Linked DNA regions of Homo sapiens. The protein of the gene in region 2 purifies or fractionates together with the protein of the main gene of each other region. This does not show direct contact. Each region holds a gene or a part of one and is shown on either strand. Other genes may lie near its edges. The genes, in order: MELK, PCDHGA5, TMEM132A and TMEM39A.

Evidence for each region.
Region 1: the proteins of PCDHGA5 (region 2) and MELK purify together in Homo sapiens (co-immunoprecipitation; 3 studies listed by BioGRID and IntAct, with this or other methods). This does not show direct contact.
Region 3: the proteins of PCDHGA5 (region 2) and TMEM132A purify together in Homo sapiens (affinity purification with mass spectrometry; 2 studies listed by BioGRID and IntAct, with this or other methods). This does not show direct contact.
Region 4: the proteins of PCDHGA5 (region 2) and TMEM39A purify together in Homo sapiens (affinity purification with mass spectrometry; 2 studies listed by BioGRID and IntAct, with this or other methods). This does not show direct contact.

Annotation. Positions count from the first base shown.
Region 1 is NC_000009.12:36,659,891-36,666,935, reverse strand, and holds part of MELK (maternal embryonic leucine zipper kinase), read right to left. Parts: intron 1,587-7,045; coding exon 1,355-1,586; intron 1-1,354. UniProt on the Homo sapiens protein: Serine/threonine-protein kinase involved in various processes such as cell cycle regulation, self-renewal of stem cells, apoptosis and splicing regulation. Has a broad substrate specificity; phosphorylates BCL2L14, CDC25B, MAP3K5/ASK1 and ZNF622.
Region 2 is NC_000005.10:141,500,142-141,507,186, reverse strand, and holds part of PCDHGA5 (protocadherin gamma-A5 isoform 1 precursor), read right to left. Parts: intron 1,795-7,045; coding exon 1,706-1,794; intron 1-1,705. Other genes in the region: PCDHGC5 (protocadherin gamma-C5 isoform 1 precursor), read right to left, coding at 1,706-1,794; PCDHGC4 (protocadherin gamma-C4 isoform 1 precursor), read right to left, coding at 1,706-1,794; PCDHGC3 (protocadherin gamma-C3 isoform 1 precursor), read right to left, coding at 1,706-1,794; PCDHGA12 (protocadherin gamma-A12 isoform 1 precursor), read right to left, coding at 1,706-1,794; PCDHGA11 (protocadherin gamma-A11 isoform 1 precursor), read right to left, coding at 1,706-1,794; PCDHGB7 (protocadherin gamma-B7 isoform 1 precursor), read right to left, coding at 1,706-1,794; PCDHGA10 (protocadherin gamma-A10 isoform 1 precursor), read right to left, coding at 1,706-1,794; PCDHGB6 (protocadherin gamma-B6 isoform 1 precursor), read right to left, coding at 1,706-1,794; PCDHGA9 (protocadherin gamma-A9 isoform 1 precursor), read right to left, coding at 1,706-1,794; PCDHGB5 (protocadherin gamma-B5 isoform 1 precursor), read right to left, coding at 1,706-1,794; and 11 more. UniProt on the Homo sapiens protein: Potential calcium-dependent cell-adhesion protein. May be involved in the establishment and maintenance of specific neuronal connections in the brain.
Region 3 is NC_000011.10:60,934,458-60,937,702, forward strand, and holds the end of TMEM132A (transmembrane protein 132A isoform b precursor), read left to right. Parts: intron 1-30; coding exon 31-307; intron 308-794; coding exon 795-986; intron 987-1,406; coding exon 1,407-2,450; 3' UTR 2,451-2,702; downstream 2,703-3,245. Other genes in the region: SLC15A3 (solute carrier family 15 member 3), read right to left, coding at 2,762-2,916. UniProt on the Homo sapiens protein: May play a role in embryonic and postnatal development of the brain. Increased resistance to cell death induced by serum starvation in cultured cells. Regulates cAMP-induced GFAP gene expression via STAT3 phosphorylation.
Region 4 is NC_000003.12:119,428,406-119,432,617, forward strand, and holds the end of TMEM39A (transmembrane protein 39A), read right to left. Parts: intron 3,810-4,212; coding exon 3,576-3,809; 3' UTR 544-3,575; downstream 1-543. UniProt on the Homo sapiens protein: Regulates autophagy by controlling the spatial distribution and levels of the intracellular phosphatidylinositol 4-phosphate (PtdIns(4)P) pools.

The DNA.
Region 1 (7,045 bases), on a different chromosome or scaffold from region 2:
CCACCGCACCCCCCCACACACACACCATCACACACACACACACACACACACACACACACACACACACACACACACACACACAAACACAGACATCATCAGGACACCAAACTGGCCTCACATTTTGGCGGAAAGTGTTATTTGAGTTGATGAAATGGAAAATGACGTTAACATAAAAATGGGACTTCTAGCAAATATTCTGGCAAAGTCTTCCGTAATATCTTTATAGACAAGAAGTTAACCCCTCAAACTGGCTATGAGCTCCATTAGTACACTAGAAGCACAATGGCAGGATGTGGTTTCCCAGCAGTTCACATGGCAATGCTCCAGAGTTTAGGTTTGTTAGAATCTTGAAACTTGAGAAGGTCACAATTGGTGGGGGGAAAAAGGCTAATAAAGTTTAGGTAACATTTTTTAAAGTGACATAAACAGGATCACTGTAAATAAAATTCCTTTGGGCTCTAATTTATTAATTCATTACATAAATATGGCCCCTATTATGTACTAGGCATCAGGTCTAGTACTGTGTACTATGTACCAGACAGGTATGGCCCCTACTACAGACCATGCCATGCTGCAATAAACAAGGCAGAGAGTCTCTACTGTCATGACACTTACCACTCTACCCTAGTGAGACCTAGTCTAGAAAACTCAGTTTAGTTCTAGGCACTGTATTCTAAGAGGCAGTCTGATCAAATAGAATGTGTCCAGATGAGGCCAGCAACCAAAACAGTGAAGTATCATAAAGGAAATGGTTTAAATAACTGCTCATGACTAAATTGAAGAGGAAACCAAGGGAAATGAGGAAGTTGTGATAACTGGACAAAGACAGATATCTGGAAGGGCATCATGGATTCACCCTGCCTGCTGAGGACAGGCAGTAATACCATAGGGCAGAACAGGACCAGACACCACAACTGGAGATCCAGATAAGTAAAGGCTCAGCGGAGGCGTCAGCTTGAGTCATAAGTCGGGGTAAATGGGCATGAAAGGTCTAAACCTGGGTATATGACCTTGGGCAAATCACTTCACTCCTTCTGAGTCTCAGGTTTCTTAGCTGTGAAAAAGGGAGTTGGATTAAATGAGCTCTAACTTGCCTTTCAGCTTTGATATCCTAGGATGCTATGATTCAATTTTATAAACGTGAAAAAGAGGAAAAACTTGGTATCATTTGAGAATAAATTGAAATTGACAAATATGCTTTCATTTTAACTAATGCAAATGACATGATAAAAAACAGCTTCACTTCTCCTAGAAATTCCTGAAAGCAATGCTAGTCATTTCTGACCTGCTATATGTTTACTTAACATGGTAAGAAAAATGAAACTTCTTACTGCTTAATTCACTTAGCAAATACCTTTTGAGGGTGTAGTGTAACGATTTGGCGTAGTGAGTATTTCTCTCTTATGCTGGTTCTTATTAACTGGAGTCTTTGGCTCAGGAAACATAAAGTACTCTTCATTCTTTACAGCAGACTTAGGAGTATATACATTTTCTTTGTTCTTTAATTTATTTGCAGGTGTTCTGCATAAGGCTGGAGTTAATGATTTAGATTCCACCCCATTTGATTCTGTCCAGTACTTGGTAAACTGGAAAAAAAAAGTTACTAGATAAAGCACACTGAAGAAGAAAAGTCAATTTCTTTACAACATTCCTTGATCATTTGCAAACTACCTTGTACTATTTTTATTAAAATGAATTATCAAAAGGATATTATTGACATTAGGAAATTTGAAAATATATAGTTTTCTTTAATACATGTAGATCACTTTAGTCTGTTCTATTGACAGTAATTTTCAACATGATACAGGCTGAGTGTATACACATACTCAGATCCTAGGCAATATTGTGAATGGCCACAAATCAATCACTAAGAAATGCTTTCCATACCTAGATAGTCACGGCTTGCCTCTGACATGTACCAAAAAAAAAGTTTAGTCAGCAATTAGGGCAGAAAAAACATGTTAAACTACTCTAACAGAAATATTGGATAAAAAATACTTTTTAATCCTTTTAAATTTATGGTTGAGCTTGCAAGAGAGTAAGTAAAATCCTGAGAGGCCAAACTAAAAACATGAGAATGAATCCAAAGGAGTAACCAAGGCTGAAACTCTCTGCTGCCCTAAGGGCAGCTATCTTCTGCCTCTGATAACCTATAGCATGTGTTTCTACAGCCACAGAAGCCTTGGGCCTCTGCAAGGTGGTGAGTTAGAACCAAAGCTCCCATGTAAAGCCAGGAAGGGCTATAGCTAAAATTAAAGGCTGAGTTAAATATAAATCTGCTCTTCAAAGGGAATAGGCAAGAAAAAGGGTGTCTTGGTCTTGGTTCTGAGGGAGGAGAAAAATGAAGTTTCTTTTAATAATTTGTAAGTAAACACAGGCCAGTCTTCAGATAAATAAAGGTCCAAATTAATACAACCTGCATGGTCCCAGAAACCTCAAGCCTAAATTTAACTTAAAGTAGTCCTATGCTAAGTTGTGCCCCAGGAACCTGGTAGAAGCACGCACAACTCCTACCTGAAAGAAAAGCTTCACTCCAACCCAACTCAAGCCCTTAACCCAAGCCTCAGATAATTCCCATAGAGTTCAAAGAAAAATAAACCTACATAAAAAATTCCAAAAGACACAAGCACTATGAGCATAAAGATTTCAGATATTAAAATTATCAAATACAGAACATAAATAAGTATGTTTGCATGTTTAAAATAGTGAAACAAAAACATGAGTAAAGAACAAAAGACTACCAAAACTGTTCAAATAGATTTGAAAAAGAATAAAAACTTCTAGAAATAAAAACATGATAAAAATGAAAAGTGCAATGCACATGTCAAATAACAGAATAAAAGAAATAGAGATATTTTAATAGAAATATAAATCCGAAATAACTCTGAATGTAGCCAAGACAGAAAAAGACATACGATACGTGAAAGATGGTTGAAGGAAACAGAAAATGAAATAAAATGTCTAACATAAGGCTATTCTAAGTTCCAGATATACATAGTATGGACAATGCAAAAGCAGCAATTCCCTCTACTTCTTTTCCCAAAGGAAAAGAAATCAATACATCAAAAACATACCTGCACTTGTATATTTATCTCAGTACTTATTCACAATAGCAAAGATACAAAATCAACCCAAGTGTCCATCAACAGATGACTGCATAAAGGAAATGTGAGATAGATAGACAGACAGACACACAGATAGAATACTATTCAACCATAAAAAAGAATGAAATCCTATCTTTTGCAACAAGGTGGATGGAAGTGGAGGTTACCTTAAGTGAAACAAGCCAGACACAGAATGACAAATATTGCATGTTCTCACTCATAAGTGGGTGCTAAAAAAGGGTGTACACGTGGATGTAGAGAGTGGAATGATAGAAAATGTAGACTTGGAAGGGTGAGGAGATGGAAGGGGGTTGGTGATGAGAAATTACTTAAGGGGTGCGATGTACATTATTCAGCTGACACCTTAAAACCTCTCACTTGACCACTATGCATCTAAGAAAATTGTACTTGTACTCTATAAATTTATATAAATATTGTTTTAAAGAAAAGCAGGCTGGGTGCGCTGGCTCACACCTGTAATCCCAGCACTTTGGGAGGCCAAGTCATGTGATCACCTGAGGTCAGGAGTACAAGACCAGCCTGGCCAACATGGTGAAACTCTGTCTCTACTAATAATACAAAAATTAGCTGGGCATGGGGACAGGCACCTGTAATCCCAGCTACTCGGGAGGCTGAGGTAGGAAAATCGCTTGAACCTGGGAAGCAGAGGTTGCAGTAAGCTGAGATCGTGCCATTGCACTCCAGCCTGGGCAAGAAGAGAGAAACTCTGTCTCAAAAAGAAAAAAAAAAAGAAACAAGGAAAAGGAGAAAAAGAAAAAGCAGTATATTATTCAAGAAATTTTCAAAAATTGATTAAAAATACAAATCCCCATACATAGAAAGCATGATGAATCATGAACTGGATACATAAAAGAAATCCACATCTCTATTTACCAGATTATACAACTCCAGAGGACACTATCCACAGAGACACCACACAGATGGTGTGTTCCCTGGAGGTGTGCAACGCAGTAGCCCTAACAGTGAAACTGCAGAACACCAAAAGCAAAGAGAAGGTCCTAAAAGGAGCCAGAGAGAAAAGACAGACTAAAAAGGCACTAGACTGAGGTTGGTTTTTCAATAGCAACAATAGAAGCAAGAAGAAAGTGGAATAATATCTTCAATAACATCCTGTGAATCCATAAATATTTCAAAATAAAAAGTTAAAAACATTCAAGAGCTAATACACTGGACACATCAATAGCATGGAATCCAGGAGGGGTAATCAGAGATTAAGTGTTCTAAGGCCTTCATATTGTTTAGAAGGAAATTAAACATACAGATTCACAGCAGGGTGCAGGGGCTCACGCCTGTAATTCTAGCACTTTGGGAGGCCGAGGCAGGTGGATCACCTGAGGTCAGGAGTTCGAGACCAGCCTGGCCAACATGGTGAAACCCTGTCTCTACTAAAAATACAAAAATTAGCCAGACATGGTGGCGGGTGCCTGTAAACCCGGCTACTTGGGAGGCTGAGGCAGGAGAATCACTTGAACCCAGGAGGAAGAGGTTGCAGTGAGCCTGAGATCACGCCATTGCACTCAAGCCTGGGCAACAGAGCAAGATTCCATCTTAAAAAAAAAAAAAAAAAGATACAGATTCACTTTATATTTCGTTAAATTAAATGTTAAAAATTTAGAGTAAATATTAAAAGAATAGAAATCAAATAGAAACCAATAAAATGTGGGGGGAAATTAACATAAAAAATCAAGAAATAAGGGGGAAATACAGAAAAAGACACATAGGAAACATAAAAAAAGAAAGATATATAATAACTAAATCCATAATAAAAATAAGTTGGGTAAGCGCTCAATTCAAAAGACAAGATTTTCAGTTTGCATACCAAATCTAGCTATGTTTTTTTCTTTGTTTGTTTTGTTTTTTTTTTTTTTTTTTTTGAGACGGAGTCTCGCTCTGTCACCTAGGCTGGAGTGCAGTGGTGCAATCTCGGCTCACTGCAAGCTCCGCCTCCCGGGTTCATGCCATTCTCCTGCCTCAGCCTCCCAAGTAACTGGGACTAGAGGTGCCCGCCACCATGCCCAGCTAATTTTTTGTATTTTTTAGTAGAGATGGAGTTTCATTGTGTTAGCCAGGATGGTCTCAATCTCCTGACCTCATGATCCACCCACCTTGGCCTCCCAAAGTGCTGGGATTACAGGCGTGAGCCACCGCGCCCGGCCTAGCTATGTTATTTTTAAAGAGACATACCTAAATATAAGGTATGAAAGGTTTCATTGTTTTATTTGTTTCATTGTTTTATTTATTAAGGAAATCTTACTTTCTTTAATTTTATAATAGTTCTTTTATCAGGTTGACCAGTTTCCTCCCATCTTCTTATTCTTTAGGAATGATTTAGTTATTCTTGCCCCTTTGTATTTCCACATACATTTTAGAATCATTTTGACTTATTTTACATCCACTGAAAAGTTGAGATTACATTAAATTTAAAATTCATTTTGGGAAAAACTGAAATCTATACCTTCAAATCTCCCTATCCATAAACAAAGTATACCTCTTTTGTTTCAGAACTCTGTGTATTAGCCAAAGATCGCAGCATTTATTCATAGAAAACAGCTAAGTAGAAACAGTGAGTTTGAGGTGTTTGAATTTGCCCTACCTATCCCCATTCTTCTCTCTCCAGCTCTATGATAGTCTTAGAAACCCACAGCCCACAATCACGATGAAGACCAGCAACCTAGGAGCCGCTGGAGGGGGCAGAACAGGTTGGAGCTCCTTCAAAGCTTCATGCTCAGAAAACTGTCATTATTTAGCCTGGCCAGTAGTTCCCTAGAAGACCCTACTATGAAAGCTGTCTTTTTTTATTCTTTGTTTGTTTTTTATTTGAGACGGAGTTTTGCTCTTGTTGCCCAGGCTGGAGTGTAATGGCGTGAACTCAGCTCACTGCAAACTCCACCTCCCGGGTTCAAGCAATTCTCCTGCCTCAGCCTTCCGAGTAGCTGGGATTACAGGCATGTGCCACCACAGGCAGCTAATTTTGTATTTTTAGTAGAGACGGGGTTTCTCCATGTTGGTCAGGTAGGTCTTGAACTCCCGACCTCAGGTGATCCACCCGCCTCAGCCCCCCAAAGTGCTGGGATTACAGGCGTGAGCCACTGCACCCAGCCTGAAAGCTGTCTTTATTTGACCTTACTCAGAGCCTGCCCAGTATGAACAGCCTTTTCCCCAGCAGCATCTGTTAAAAAGATTTAGAGGTGCCAGGCGCAGTGGCTCACGCCTGTAATCCCAGCACTTTGGGAGGCCAACGCGGGTGGATCTCTTGAGTCCAGGAGTTTGAGACCAGCCTGGGCAAAATATTGAGACCCTGTCTCTACAAAATAATTTTGTAAAAATTAGCTGGGCATGGTGGTGCATGCCTATAGTCCCCGATACTCGGGAGGCTGAGGCAAGAAAATTGCTTAAGCCCAGGAGGTCGAGGCTGCAGTGAGCCATGATCACACCACTGGACTCCAGCCTGGTTGACGGAATGAGATCCTATCTCAAAAACAAAAAAAAATTTACAGGCAATTGTTGCACATTGTGGCTGCCGAAGCAGTAAGTAATAGCTGGTGACCACAATAAACTAACAAAAATGCTGAAAAAAAAGTTAGAGAATAAGATGTCCACAGTGAATTGGAAAAGCTCCAAAATATACCAGGGTATCTACAAGCCCAATGTACATGTATAGGATGTGCTCATACCCAGGGCTGTGCATTTGCTCAGGAAAGACTTTAGAAGGGGCTGGGCATGGTGGCTCACGCCTGTAATCCCAGCACTTTGGGAGGCTGAGGCAGGTGGATCACTTGAGGTCAGCAGTTCGAGACCAGCCTGACCAACATGGTGAAACCTCGTCTCTACTAAAAATACAAAATTAGCCAGGTGTGGTGGCGCATGCCTGTAATCCCAGCTCCATGGGAGGCTGAGGCAGGAGAATTGCTTGAACCCAG
Region 2 (7,045 bases):
GCAGAGCTCGAGGAAGAGGACAGCCTCTCATCCTGCTCAGGTAATAGAGAAGCCGAGGCTGGATCCAAAGGCAGCCATGGTCCCTATAGTAGAAAGAGCATAAACTTAGGAGTTGAGCCAGGTTAGAACCTCAGCTTGGCAGCTCAAAACTGAGGACCCTGGGGCAAGTGCCTTCTCGGTTCTCTCATCTGTCGAGTGTGAGAAATCAGACCTGCCTTGCAGAGCTATTGAGAGGATTCATTGACAGGAGGCCCCTAAAGTTTGTTTAGTATGTGCCCAGGTGTGATGACAGTGCTTCTTGTGATTTCACCTGGTTCTCTACCCACCAGTCCTCCAGACATGCTGGAGGGCAGGGCTATCAGTTCATGATATAGGGCAATGCCTTGATCCTCTGCCAGCCTCCTTATAAGCCCAGGATTTGCTGCTCCAGAAGCTAGTCTTTATTAATAGGCATTATTCTAATTCTGCTTTCTACCCAGTAAAAAACGGGTTTGGGTCAGCAAAGATAATAATATATTGTGCCCTTACTCTCTGCCAATCCTGTGCTGAGGGACTTGCATTTGGCCCTGGTAACACCACAATGAGATCCGTTAATACTGTGCCCATTAATAGTAAGTGAAACCGAGGGGGTTTAATAACTTACCTAAGGACTCATTGCTAAGTGGTGGTGCCAGGTGCCAGGATTTGAATCCAGATTGGCCTGCCTCTAAAGCCTGTGCTCTTTTTTTTTTTTTTTTTTTTTGAGACAGAGCGAGACTGTTGCCCAGGCTGGAGTGCAGTGGTGCGATTTTCTGCTCACCACAGCCACCTCCCAGGTTCAAGCGATTCTCCTGCCTCAGCCTCCCAAGTAGCTGGGACTACAGGCACGCACCACCATGCCCAGCTAATTTTTGTATTTTTAGTAGAGACAGGGTTTCACTATGTTGGCCAGGCCGGTTTCGAACTCCTGACCTCATGATCCTCCTGCCTCAGCTTCCCAAAGTGCTGGGATTACAGGCGTGAGCCACCACGCCCAGCTTAGGCTGTGCTCTTAAGGACAAATGATATTCTTCTTCTCCTGCTCTGGGCCCTAGTGACTCTTCAGGGACAACCACCACTAGCCGAATCTCTATTACAAAGGAAGCCCTTAGTCAACCTTATGGGAAAACCAGAATCCTACTCTGGAGTTAGGGGCAGCAAAAGAGGAGCCTCGCATAAAGAGGAGGTGTTCTCTCGGCTGGGGATTTCTACACCCACTTTCATTGCTTGAGGGCTTCCAAGCGCCAGGCCCAGAACTCTATGCTTTGTGGTATCATCTCATTTAATCTCTACAACAACCCTTTGGGGTCCCTGTCCCCACTTTCTAGGCTGAGGAAACTGAGGTTTAGAGAGATTGAGCAAGTCGATCCAAGTCCCAAGGATAGTAGCAGAGCTAGGACCTGAGCTACACTGTCCCATTCCAGAGCTAGACTTGTAACCACTATTCCCTCCATGAGTCTTTTCCTTGTTCGCTCTCCTCCAGGCATCCCAGGACCCCCAACCCCTCTGCTGTTCCTTAGCCACAATTCCAGGCTTTATGTTTGGAATTGTGGGTCCTTTCAGACCTGCCGAAAGATCTGGAGAAACTACACAGGTTTGACATCCAGTCCGTGGGCATGGTGGCTGTGAGATGCACCCCAGAACCCCAGGTCTCCCACTCTTCCATACACACACTGACACCACTTACCACTGGCGGACGCCAAGATCATGGCTTGCAGCATCTCTGTGTCAAACTGGTTGTTGGGCCAGGTGCCGGTGTCATCGCCATTTTGGGAGCTGGGGAGAGAGTAGGATGGTGAGCACAGACTCCCAGGCCGGCACAGCTCATGCCCCTCCTGTCCTCTCCCAGGGCTCCCAAACCTAGTACCCTAACCCTACCCCATGCCCAAGACCTGTTTCTCTCAGCAAGGTAGGAGGCACTTCTACAATCCTTCAGAAGCCAGAATCCCACAAGTCAGTCCCTCAAACCAGCTCTTTGCTGCCTCCGATGCTTTTTTCTTTTTGTTTTAGACAGGGTCTTACTCTGTCATCCAGGCTGGAGTGCAGTGGCGCGATCTTGGCTCATTGCAACATCCACCTCCTGGGTTCAAGCGATTCTCCTGCCTCAGTCTCCCAAGTAGCTGGGATGACAGGCACCTGCCACTGTGCCAGGCTAATTTTTGTATTTTTAGTACAGACGGGGTTTCACCATGTTGGCCAGGCTGGTCCAATGCATTGAACATAGTGCATTCCCCCACCCACCATGAGAGAGCCTGGCTTCCTGTCATAGTGAGGGAGATCAGACCTTCTCCAGAGGACTGTGAAGGTGGGAAATGGAAGAGAATGTTCCAGAGCTAGAGAAAAAGTGGGGACCTAGGAGGTACCTAGGGGGAGATGTAGGAGGCCCCAAGAGACCCTGGAGCAGGGAGAAGAAATTTCTAAAATTCAATGGCTTCCTAAGCCCTCAGAGTAAAATCCACGGCCATAGAAGAACCTGCCCCTCCTATTTTACAAGAACCCCCACCCCCCGCCCTCAAACACTCTATCATCAAACCTTTTCCAAGGTGCACTTTCCTATCCCTCAAGTTCCCTCTTGCTGTGAATCCTGGGCAGATGGTGTTCCCTAGAATGCCAGTCCCCCAACATTTGCCATGATGACACGAATAAAATATATCAGAGGAGATCCACTCAGACTGGGCAGGTGCCTCCACTGTACTCCCATCCCAGCGGCTGCCCCACATGGCACTAGTCACACTGCAGCTGTTGTAGTGCCTGTCTGTTCCTCCACCACACTGGCTTCTGTGAGGCAGCGACTCCACCTGCTTCCTACTGAAGCACCTAGCACAAAGCCTAGCACTTGGACCTAAGTGAGACTTTTAGAAACTCCGAGTGTTGAAAAAACATGAAATGATTCATAATTTAAAAAAATACTAAACCATAAGAAGAACTCTCTGCTTCTTAGAAGGTTCAGCTCTACTTGGAATTTTCCCACAGTGACAATTTTCATGATTTTTTTGAATTTCCAAGGATGAAATTATTTCAATTTGCAGGGGAGTGTTGGCGGGAAACAGCCCTGGCACACACACAGTCTGCCCTTTAGGTAACTGTTTGGCACCATCTGGCTCAGAGAAGTTTTTCAATAAATATTTGTTGCCTAAATGAGTGGGAAGAGACCAGCAGAGACAGTTAAGTGACTGTAAGGTAAGAAGAAGGGTTTGGCACCATGGGAAAGGCTGTAGGGTAGGCCTTGAAGGCATGAAAATGTCTGTGTGTGTGTTGCGTTGTGTGTGTGCATATTTTGTCATGGTGGGTGAGCACAACCAAGAACTGCTTTACAATTTTTCCAAGGTCTGTCCCTGCTTTTGGTTTTGCCCAATCTGGGATTCCCCGTCCCTAAGTAGATGAACTCAGCCTAAGAACAGACACAAGGCTGCCATGTGTGACCTCTATACCATCACAACAAACATAAAGCTAGGGTTGAAGGGGAAAGCAGGAATCTCAATTCTCCTTCCCAAAAGTGGGAAGAGTTGTAATTCTGTTTCCATTGATTCAATAATTATTTCTTTTCTTTTTTCTTTTTTTTTTTTTTTTGAGCTGGAGTCTCGCTCTGTCACCCAGGCTGGAGTACAGTGGCGCGATCTCGGCTCACTGCAACCTCTGCCTCCCAGGTTCAAGTGATTCTCCTGCCTCAGCCTCTTGAGCAGCTGGGACGACAAGTGCACACATGCCACCATGCCCAGCGAATTTTTGTATTTTTAGTAGAGATGGGGTTTCACCATATTGGCCAGGTTGGTTTCGAACTCCTGACCTCATGATCCACCTGCCTCCGCTTCCCAAAGTGCTGGAATTACAGGCGTGAGCCACCGCGCCCCTCCAACAATTCTTTCTTGAGCAATTTCTATGTACCAGACACAGAGCCAGGTGCTGGGGTTGTGGCTGTGAGTATGATAGAAACTGTCCATCTTTACGGTGCTCATGGTGGGCACTGAGAGGCTGATTTTAAATAATTACACAATAGAGTAATTGCAATTGTGATACTTGCCATGGGCTGTGTCAGGGGCTACCAGAGGGTATGAAGAGAGGCAGGGGCGGGCAGACCACGAGGTCAGGAGATCGAGACCATTCTGACCAACATGGTGAAACCCTGTCTCAACTAAAATAGATATTAAAAAAAAAAAATTAACCGGGCATGGTGGCACACGCCTGTAATCCCAGCTACTTGGGAGGCTGAGGCAGGAGAATCGCTTGAACCCAGGAGGTGAAGGTTGCCACTGCACTCCAGCCTGGCAACAGAGCTAGACTCCCTGTCAAAAAAAAAAAAAAGACAGAGAGTCAGGGTTAGGCAGCTCAGCCAGTCCAGGCTTCCCCAAGGAAAAGACAGTGAATTTAAATCTGAAGAAATCATCCAGGTAATTTTCAGAAGAATACCAGCAAATACATGTAGAAGGAATGACAGAACATCACCGCTTTGTAATCACTGATGTAAAAACAGATACAGGCAAGGATCATCAGGGAATACTAAAATTGCATGAAGGGTTGCTGCCTATCTCAAAGTATCATCCACAGATTACTTATATTTTCACAAATATTTTAAAATATCTTTATAAAAATATATTTTTATAATGGAGAGATCTGGGACACTGTTTTTACCACACGAACAAACTCGGCATCACTGATAGTGGGACAGGCCGACGTTAGATGAGTCCCAGTGTGATGCTGCGGGAAGTATTCCTACCAAGGTGTGTAATCTGAATCTAACCATCAGAGAATAGCCAGCAAATCCAGGTTCGGGGACATTTTAAAGTACAACTGGCCTGGACTCTTTAAAAATATCCATGTCATTAAAAAAATAAAAAGACTGGGAGCTGGCTCCAGATTAAAGGAGAGGAAAGACGTGACAACCAAATGCAATCTATGCTCCTTGATAAAATCCTGGATTAAAAAAAAGGATAAAAGAACACACAGAACATTTATGAAAATCTGCTGGTGGATTCTATATTATTGTATTAATGTTAAATTCCTCAACTGAATATCTGGGGTCCTTACTTCCGGCCCGACTGAGCTCTGTGGGCCTGGCTGAGGGTGCAGGGTCAAGGCCAGGTGTTCTCAGCCCCAGGTGAAGGGGGCTAATGGGAATAAAGTAGGGAGAGCAGGCAAGCGGCGGGGGTTGCAGGGAGGAGAGCATGCGGGTTGTCAGGGAGACAACGGGACCAGATGCCAGAGGTTAGGAGGATGACCTGTCACAGGGAGCAGTGGTGTTGAGGGAACAAAGCTGAGTGGAACAGTGGGGTTGGAACCATGATGATCAGGAGTGTAAGGAGGCGTCCTGGGAAATGGTTGAAGGTTGAGGGCCAAACAGGTGGGTGGGCTGCCAATTATGTGAAGCTGGGTAAGAGATGAGCAGAGGGAGAGAGACCTCTTTTTTAACCATTTACTGAGAGCTTCCTATTCTAAGCTGACTGGGTAATATATTTGTCTTTTTTATCCTCGGAATCACCCTGCAGATAAGTGTTGTGATTATCTATATTTTCCAACAGATGAAAACAGGGCTCAGAGAGGTTGAGAGACTATACCAGAGTCACACAGCTGGAACTGGTAGAGTTGCAACCTGAAAGCCAGCCTAATATGATTCCAGGGCCTATGATCTTATGCACAACAACGTACTGGGCTTCAGCTTGGAGGCCTTGGAGCCCCAGCAGCAGATATGAGGGACTCTTCCAGGATTTGGGGAATAGTGAAAAGTAAAAATGGAAGAAATGGACTACATTTAGTCAACTATTTTCCAAGCAGTGGCCTGTGACAGGACCTAGGATTTAAGAGATGATGAATATGGTTCTTGCCCTATTGAGTTTGGGGTGTGTGTGTGTGTGTGTGTGTGTGTGTGTGTGTGTGTGTGTGTATAAGGGAATATCCCATAGACTGGACTATAATAAAATACTCCCTACATCATGCTCAAAAAACTGAGAAATCTAGGAAGTCACCCTGACAACACCCTGAATTTAATTGTGTTAAAATGTAAATGAGGCTGGGGATGGTGGCTCCCACCTGTAATCCCAGCACTTAGGGAGGCTGAGGCAGGCGGATCACGAGGTCAAGAGATTGAGACCATCCTGGTCAACATGGTGAAACCCCGTCTCTACTAAAAATACAAAAATTAGCTGGGCGTGGTGGCGCGTGCCTGTAGTCCCAGCTACTCAGGAGGCTGAGGCAGGAGAATTGCTTGAACCCAGGAGGTGGAGCTTGCAGTGAGCCGAGATGGCGCCACTGCACCCCAGCCTGGAGACAGAGCGAGACTGTCTCAAAAAAAAAAAATTGTAAATGAATGTGTATGTTTTCTAATGTAGCAAAAGCCCATTAGCATTAGAAAAATAATATGTATATTCATATGAGGACTTATTCTGTAAAATAATATGTATATTCATAAGAGGAGTTACTCTGCAAATGACTTGGGAAGAATTTTGAAAGACATGGGGAAATTCTCATGATACACTGCAAAGAAGAAAAAAGCTATAATTCTGTTGGACAGTATGGCCTCAGTTGCTATTTTTAAAAAACTAGTAGGAAATGTACCGTATGACTGGGAATAACAGTTCTTAATATGTGAATAAAGTGTCACATGAAAGTGTGACAAGTTTGTGAACAACTTATTTAGGTGAATGAGATTTTTTTAAAATGAAGCTCGGCCAGGCGCGGTGGCTCACGCCTGTAATCCCAGCACTTTGGGAGGCCGAGGCGGGCGGATCACGAGGTCAGGAGATCGAGACCATCCTGGCTAACACGGTGAAACCCCGTCTCTACTAAAAATACAAAATAATTAGCCGGGCGTGGTAGTGGGCGCCTGTAGTCCCAGCTATTCTGGAGGCTGAGGCAGGAGCATGGCGTGAACCTGGGAGGCGGAGCTTGCAGTGAGCCGAGATTGCGCCACTGCAGTCCAGCCTGGGTGACAGAGCAAGGCTACGTATCAATAAATAAATAAATAAATAAATAAATAAATAAATAAATAAAAATAAAAATGAAGCTCATGCATGTTCTTTGATTACACAAAGAA
Region 3 (3,245 bases), on a different chromosome or scaffold from region 2:
ACGGCCAGTCCCGGCCTCCCCGCCCTGCAGGCCTGCGGAACCCGCTGCAGAGGCGTCGGATGAGGCCGAGCGGCGCGCCCGTGGCTGCCACCTGCAGTACCAGCGGGCCGGTGTGCGCTTCCTCGCCCCCTTCGCGGCCCACCCGCTGGACGGCGGCCGCCGCCTCACGCACCTGCTTGGCCCCGACTGGCTGCTAGACGTGTCCCACCTCGTGGCGCCACACGCCCGCGTGCTGGACTCGCGTGTAGCCTCTCTGGAGGGTGGCCGTGTCGTGGTGGGCCGGGAGCCCGGTGTCACCTCCATTGAGGTAAGCAGCTGGGGACCAGGAGAGTAGACCCCCTGAGAAGGGTGGAGGGGCCCCCAAAATGTTCGTGGGTGGGAGTGAAGAGTGTGCCAGGAGCCCAGAGTGTGTGGGGGAGTTGTGCGGTCTAGGTCTGAGTGCAGTGGGATTGGGGATAGGCTCAGAATGGGGTGGCCGCATAAGGGGGGAAGCCCTCTAGCTATGAAGGGCTGAGGTGTGGGTAGTGTGGGGACCGGGTCTTGAGGGAAAAGGGAACTGCCCCCTAGGTGTGGGATTGGGGTCCAGGTATGCACCGGGGTGCAAAGAGTAGAGGGATAGTAGCCCATGAGCCTGCTGGGAGTACCCGGTTCCCTCTGGGTGGGGGCTGTCCGTGGCGAAGACCTCCCCCACCTCCGGAGGGCAGCCCGTGAGGGTGCTGGGAGCACCCGGTTCCCTCTGGGTGGGGGCTGTCTGTATGGAAGGCCCCCCACCTCCAGCTCCTTTCCACCCTCAGGTGCGTTCCCCACTGTCTGACTCCATCCTGGGGGAGCAGGCGCTGGCTGTGACGGACGACAAGGTCTCAGTGCTGGAGCTGAGGGTGCAGCCAGTGATGGGCATCTCGCTGACCTTGAGCCGGGGCACTGCCCACCCCGGGGAGGTCACAGCTACGTGCTGGGCACAGTCAGCCCTTCCCGCCCCAAAGCAGGTGACAGTTGGGGGGTCAGGGGGATGAGGTCAACATCTCCAGATGGGGGCTCATGGTAGAGGGGAATGGGAGGAAGGGACCCTGGTACCTCGACCCCTTAGGGTTTTCAGAGTGAGGACTGACTCTGTGAGGTAGTGAGCTCTCTGCAGCTGGAGGTGATCAAGCAGTGGCTGGAGTATGGCAGTGGGAGGTTGGTTAGATGGCTCTAACTGAGGACCCTCCCAATAACTCAGACCCTAGGGCTGAGTGGCAGACAGGTGATTGACACGCGTCCCCTCTCTCCCTGTGTTTTGTCTATCTGCCTGTGTCTCTGTTTTCTCTCTGGTCTCTCCTCCATGTGGCCTATCTCTGTGGGAGTGGTTTCTCTGTGCATGCGTGCGTGCCCTCGCATGTCTCTGCCTGTGTCTGTGTGCCCCACAGGAGGTGGCCCTCTCCCTATGGCTGTCCTTCTCTGATCACACTGTGGCCCCAGCTGAGCTCTACGACCGCCGTGACCTGGGACTGTCCGTCTCAGCCGAGGAGCCTGGTGCCATCCTGCCAGCTGAGGAGCAGGGTGCCCAGCTCGGGGTGGTGGTGAGTGGGGCAGGCGCCGAGGGGCTGCCGCTGCATGTGGCTCTGCACCCGCCCGAGCCCTGCCGCCGGGGCCGCCACCGTGTGCCTCTGGCCTCTGGCACCGCCTGGCTGGGGCTGCCCCCTGCCTCCACTCCAGCCCCTGCTCTCCCATCCAGCCCTGCTTGGAGCCCACCAGCCACAGAAGCCACCATGGGTGGTAAACGGCAGGTGGCAGGCAGTGTCGGGGGCAACACAGGTGTGAGGGGCAAGTTTGAGCGGGCAGAGGAGGAGGCCAGGAAGGAGGAGACCGAAGCCAGGGAGGAGGAGGAGGAAGAGGAGGAGGAGATGGTCCCTGCCCCTCAGCATGTCACTGAGCTAGAGCTGGGCATGTACGCCCTGCTGGGAGTCTTCTGCGTGGCCATCTTCATCTTCTTGGTCAATGGTGTGGTCTTCGTCCTGCGCTATCAGCGCAAAGAACCTCCCGACAGTGCCACTGACCCCACCTCCCCCCAGCCCCACAACTGGGTCTGGCTGGGCACTGACCAGGAGGAACTGAGCCGCCAGCTGGACCGGCAGTCCCCTGGCCCGCCCAAGGGGGAGGGGAGCTGCCCCTGTGAGAGTGGGGGAGGAGGGGAGGCCCCTACCCTGGCCCCTGGCCCTCCTGGGGGCACCACCAGCTCCTCAAGCACCCTGGCCCGAAAGGAGGCTGGGGGGCGGCGGAAGCGAGTAGAGTTTGTGACATTTGCGCCAGCCCCTCCAGCCCAGTCACCTGAGGAGCCTGTAGGGGCCCCTGCTGTGCAGTCCATCCTTGTGGCAGGCGAGGAGGACATCCGCTGGGTGTGTGAGGACATGGGGCTGAAGGACCCTGAGGAGCTTCGCAACTACATGGAGAGGATCCGGGGCAGCTCCTGACCCTCCACAGCCACCTGGTCAGCCACCAGCTGGGGCAACGAGGGTGGAGGTCCCACTGAGCCTCTCGCCTGCCCCCGCCACTCGTCTGGTGCTTGTTGATCCAAGTCCCCTGCCTGGTCCCCCACAAGGACTCCCATCCAGGCCCCCTCTGCCCTGCCCCTTGTCATGGACCATGGTCGTGAGGAAGGGCTCATGCCCCTTATTTATGGGAACCATTTCATTCTAACAGAATAAACCGAGAAGGAAACCAGAGCTGGGACTGCTGCCGTCTGTCCGGTAGAGTGAAGCAAGGGGGCTGGAATAGGGCCTGTTCAGCCCCTGTCCCTGCTGAAACGGCTGTGGGAGGCTGGGCCCTGGGACGCCCTCTCATAGCGTCCAGCGATCCAGACAAATAGGAGAGCCGTGACGGCCTGAATGCCAGCCAGCAGGAAGAAGTAGAGGTCCATCCGGCAATTGTTGATGTTCCCTGGGGAAAGGAGGGGTTAGATTTGGGTCAGGACAGGGATCCTCTGTCTTGCGCCCTGTGCCTGCCGTGTCCTAGCCCTGGGGCTGGCAACTGAGGCCATGTGGGCAGTGGTGGGATCTGAAGACACTGGACAGATACCCACTAATGTTTGACTTCCTGAAGATCTCCAGGGGTGTCTACAATTCCTCTTCAGCTATTCAGAAGGGGGCGTGAAATATAAACACCATGAGAAAGGTAACCCTTCAGCCAGAGATGGCAGAGTTCCAGAAGCAGAAAGGAGCCTTGGAGGTCCACTAAGTTCAACACTTGGGGAAAGAAAGGCCCAAGGA
Region 4 (4,212 bases), on a different chromosome or scaffold from region 2:
CTGAGTCAGCTGTTGAAGCTTTCTGTTGAATTTTTCAGTCTCTTGAATTTCTATCCCATTCTTATTGTTTCTATTTGTCAACTTTCTTTTTAGTGTACTGTTTTCAAATTTCATTAAATTTTTTATCTGTATATATTAATAGTTCACTGAACTTCTTTATGGGTATTATTCTGAATTCTTTGTCAGTTATTTCATAAATCTCCATTTCTTTGGGGTCTATTATTGGAGCTTTATTAGTTTCTTTTGTAGGTGTCATGATTCCCTGATTCTTCATAATCTGTATGTTCTTGTATTGTTGTCAGTGCATTTGAGGAGACAGCCCCCTCTTCTGGCCGTTACAGGTGTTCTTGGGAAGGGATAGACCTTCACTATTTAGTCTATCCTATGATTCCAGAAGGGTCAGCTGATCAGTTAAGTGATGCTGATGCTGCTGATCTAGAGATTACTTTGGGAACTAGAAACCAGTGGATCATAAGTTATTCTTAGCTTATAATCTTTCATTAGCTGTCTTCTGTCTACAAAAGTTCCAAGACATCTGTCTGCTTATTTGAAGTACTTATGAAAAGAGCACTTTATTGGGCTTCACACTCAAGATTGTTAATAGATCTGATATCTATTACGTATCTCATACATATTTCTGTTAATGAACACCCTAGTGTGACAACTGGTTTACTTGTCTGTCTTCTATTAGTTAATGAACTCGAACATCACTATCTCCGGCACCCAGCAGTGTTTGGCATATAATTGCCCAGTACATAGAAATGAGATGCCTGGCTAGCTTAATAGAAATAAAAAAATTAATTAAAAAAAAGAGAGAGAAACGGCACAACAGGTGGCAGTGGTGGTGACTGATAGGGACAGGAAGGAAAGGAGGATTAGGAATATAAACATGGAATCAGAGTAAACAGGATATTGAGGAAAACTTCTGTCATGCTCATTCCTGTGAACTACCCTCCTCTACTCCTTTATTTACCCACCTTAGACCACCCAGACTAGTCAAGTATCTTCTTTCCTTTTCCAGTATCCCAGTTCACCCAACTGAACTTTTGCTATACCATGCTTTCCACAAACAATTTTAACTTGCCAACAAAGAATTACAAAAAAGGTCATTCTTTAATGATTACACATTTTTCTACTATCAGTGAGCAAATATAGTGTCCCTTCTGTTACATGAACTATAATAGGATATCCGGGTAACTAGTAATTTTTCTCTCTTCCATGAACGTGGCCCCTACAAAAACAAAACAACAAAACAAACAAACAAAAAACAGCTGGAATGTGTAGAACACGTTGAACTAAACGGTCTTATGCCCCGTATGCTGCCATATCTGGAGGTGAGGGTAGGAGGAACTTTGCAATTCCATTAGCCAAAATTAATTTTTATTTATTTCTTATATCCACTTACTTATTTAGCCAAGCCAGCATCTGGTTCTGTGCTATTCCCTTAGGATAGGACCAAGACAGATCAAGCCAGAAGGGGCATCATATTAGTTCATAAGACTGGTCTGTTATCTCTAATCAGGGTTTTCTGGGTTACTTTCCCAAGCTGGAGCCAAGTTGGGGCAATTTTGATGAGATATCTCTGTGCCCATGCCACCCATTTTGCTCTCAACTGCTGAGTAATCTCATGAAAATGTTGCTGCCAAGAGAAGCATATTTTCAAGATCCTACAGAAAGAATAGAAAGATGGCAGATTCCCTACCCTTCCCACCCCTACCTCAAGAACCACTATATTTAGGCTGAACTACTTTAAAAAGCAACTAACCTAATATATTTTCTTGCTATTCTTCCAATATACCAACTTGTCCCCACCTCAGGGCACTGCCCTTTCTGCTACTGTAACATGGAATTCTCCCCAAAGCTATTTATATGATTCAGTCTTGCTTTTTCTTTGCTTAAAAATCATCTCCTCAAAGATGCCTTCTAGCAGTGCTATTCTTACCACTATTTCCTTGTCCTGATTTCCCTTTGCTACACTTATCACTACTACCAGGGAATGTTATATTACACATAAATTTATTTGCTGTATTTTCTGCACCACCTAACTCCCCCACCCCCACGCATATTGTAAGCTCTGTGCAAGTAGGACCTTTGCATTTCTCATTCACTGCTATATCCCCAGGGCCTAATATAGTGCCTACTGGTTAATATATATTTGTTGAATGGTTGAACAGACTCAGACTGAATGCCAAATAATGTTAACTTAAAAAAAAAGTATACACATCAAAATATTTAAAGAAACAATTATTGATTTAAACATAAAACTGATATTGGGTACCTTGGTTTTACAAACACTCCTCACAATACTTCCCCTTGGTGAAGCCTTTCAGGAACTCTTCTGCAAGAATTATTTTCAGAGCCAGCTTGTCAACGACATGATTGGTCTTTTTACTTCATAAGTCTTATTTTGTTTCACCAAAAGCTTCACAGTGTAACAAACCAAACTCAGCACAGAAAACATATGACAATATATTTTAGATTCTCTAAGACAAGGTCTCATAAGTTTAGATGACAAGTGACAACATCAATGGACTAAGTATATCACCTCCCATAACTTAAAAGGCTAATACTCATAAACATGAAAGTTCTGGAGTATGAAATTTAAAACACAAATTTTGGATATAAATTATCTGAGTACAAAGCTGTAGGTAATTCTTATCTTTCACTTCCCCTCATAACTCCAAACATAACGCCATTGTAGGTGGGTTGCTGCTAGACTACATCCAAGATTGTTCAGCTGAGGACTTGCCCACTCTCCCAGTTACTTGGAATTTTCAACCTTCCCATACTCTAGCCCACATGGCATTTGCACTCAGCTTCTCCTACTGATCCAGCCACACATCATCTTCTTCATGAATGTGGGCAGTCTAAAGACTTCCTGTCTGGCAAAGTATTATTTCAAACAACTAAGAGGAAAATCTTTGGAAGCAGAAGTGGAAACACAGGAAAAGTGGCAGCAAAACCCTCAGCCTCAGGATAGTAGCTTATTCAAAAGTATATTTAAATGTCACAGGGTAAAATAGACCAGCTGAGTCCGTATCTTAGAAAGGAAGCCTACTGCTTTCTCCTGGTAGGCAACAAAGAGAACCCCACCTAGGACTTTAACCCACTCTTTTCCCAATGTATTCCAATACTATTAGCCAGCTGAACTAAAAGAGAATGGGTGCTGGTAGGCAACTCCATTGATCTCCCTTTCTTTAGCAATAAGTACTGGCCAGCTGAGGGCTAAAGATAATGAGGATTGAAAGAAAAGCAGACATACCAAAGGTACTGTGTCAAGTAATACATGAGATGTGTTCATAAACGAATGAGTTATTCCAGAGCCATACAAACAAATCAATCTCTTTACTGGACAGGCATACCTCTCATATGTATATTATTCGAATATACTAACACATGAAAGATCACATCACCTTGTTTACGGATACATTTAATATCCCTTACTCTTCCCGACTTTCAAAACATAATAGTATACAAAATATAAAATATCTTAAATATTTATAAAAATCACAAGAAAAAAATAGAACGTATGAAAATATTTTTATCTGAGTTCTCCCTCATTGTTGAGAGGCAGCTTAGTTTGCCTTGAGTTCATAACTGTTGAGTGGGTAGGAGTATGCCCTGCCTAATACTATTCTGTCCCGGAGAAGTTTAAATAAAACATAGTAGTTGCAGAAGAGGATGAGAGCCATGGAAAGTGTGTGGTTCCACTTCTCCGACCGCAGCAAGGAATAGAGCTGATAGAAGACGACACTGCCCTCAATAAGGATGAGCAGATTTAACAGCCTTAATGGTCGATGAAATAAGAACTGTAAGGAAGTTAAAAAAGTAAAACATTATTTCATAGAAAAGTAATGGCTACAGTTATTCTTGCATTGATTTTTCTAAAATAATTTAACATTTACAGGTTCCCATATATAATAATAAATAGATCTGTTTATTTAATATCAATCAGGCTATTTCTTGCTATAAAGATTGAAACCTTTTCCTTTTTGCTCAAGAAATAATGAAATAATTTTTATTTCAATGCCCCTGAGACACGAAAAGAGATTATGCCCAAAAGAAAACTACTTATAAACATTTTTCTTAGATTATATTTTAGGTATATATTTTATTTAGGATAAACACAAAAGTATATTCATCTAAGACAGAGGTGGATAAAGGACCAAACAGGAAATATTTTAGGCTTTGTAAGTCAAGAGGCAAAAATTA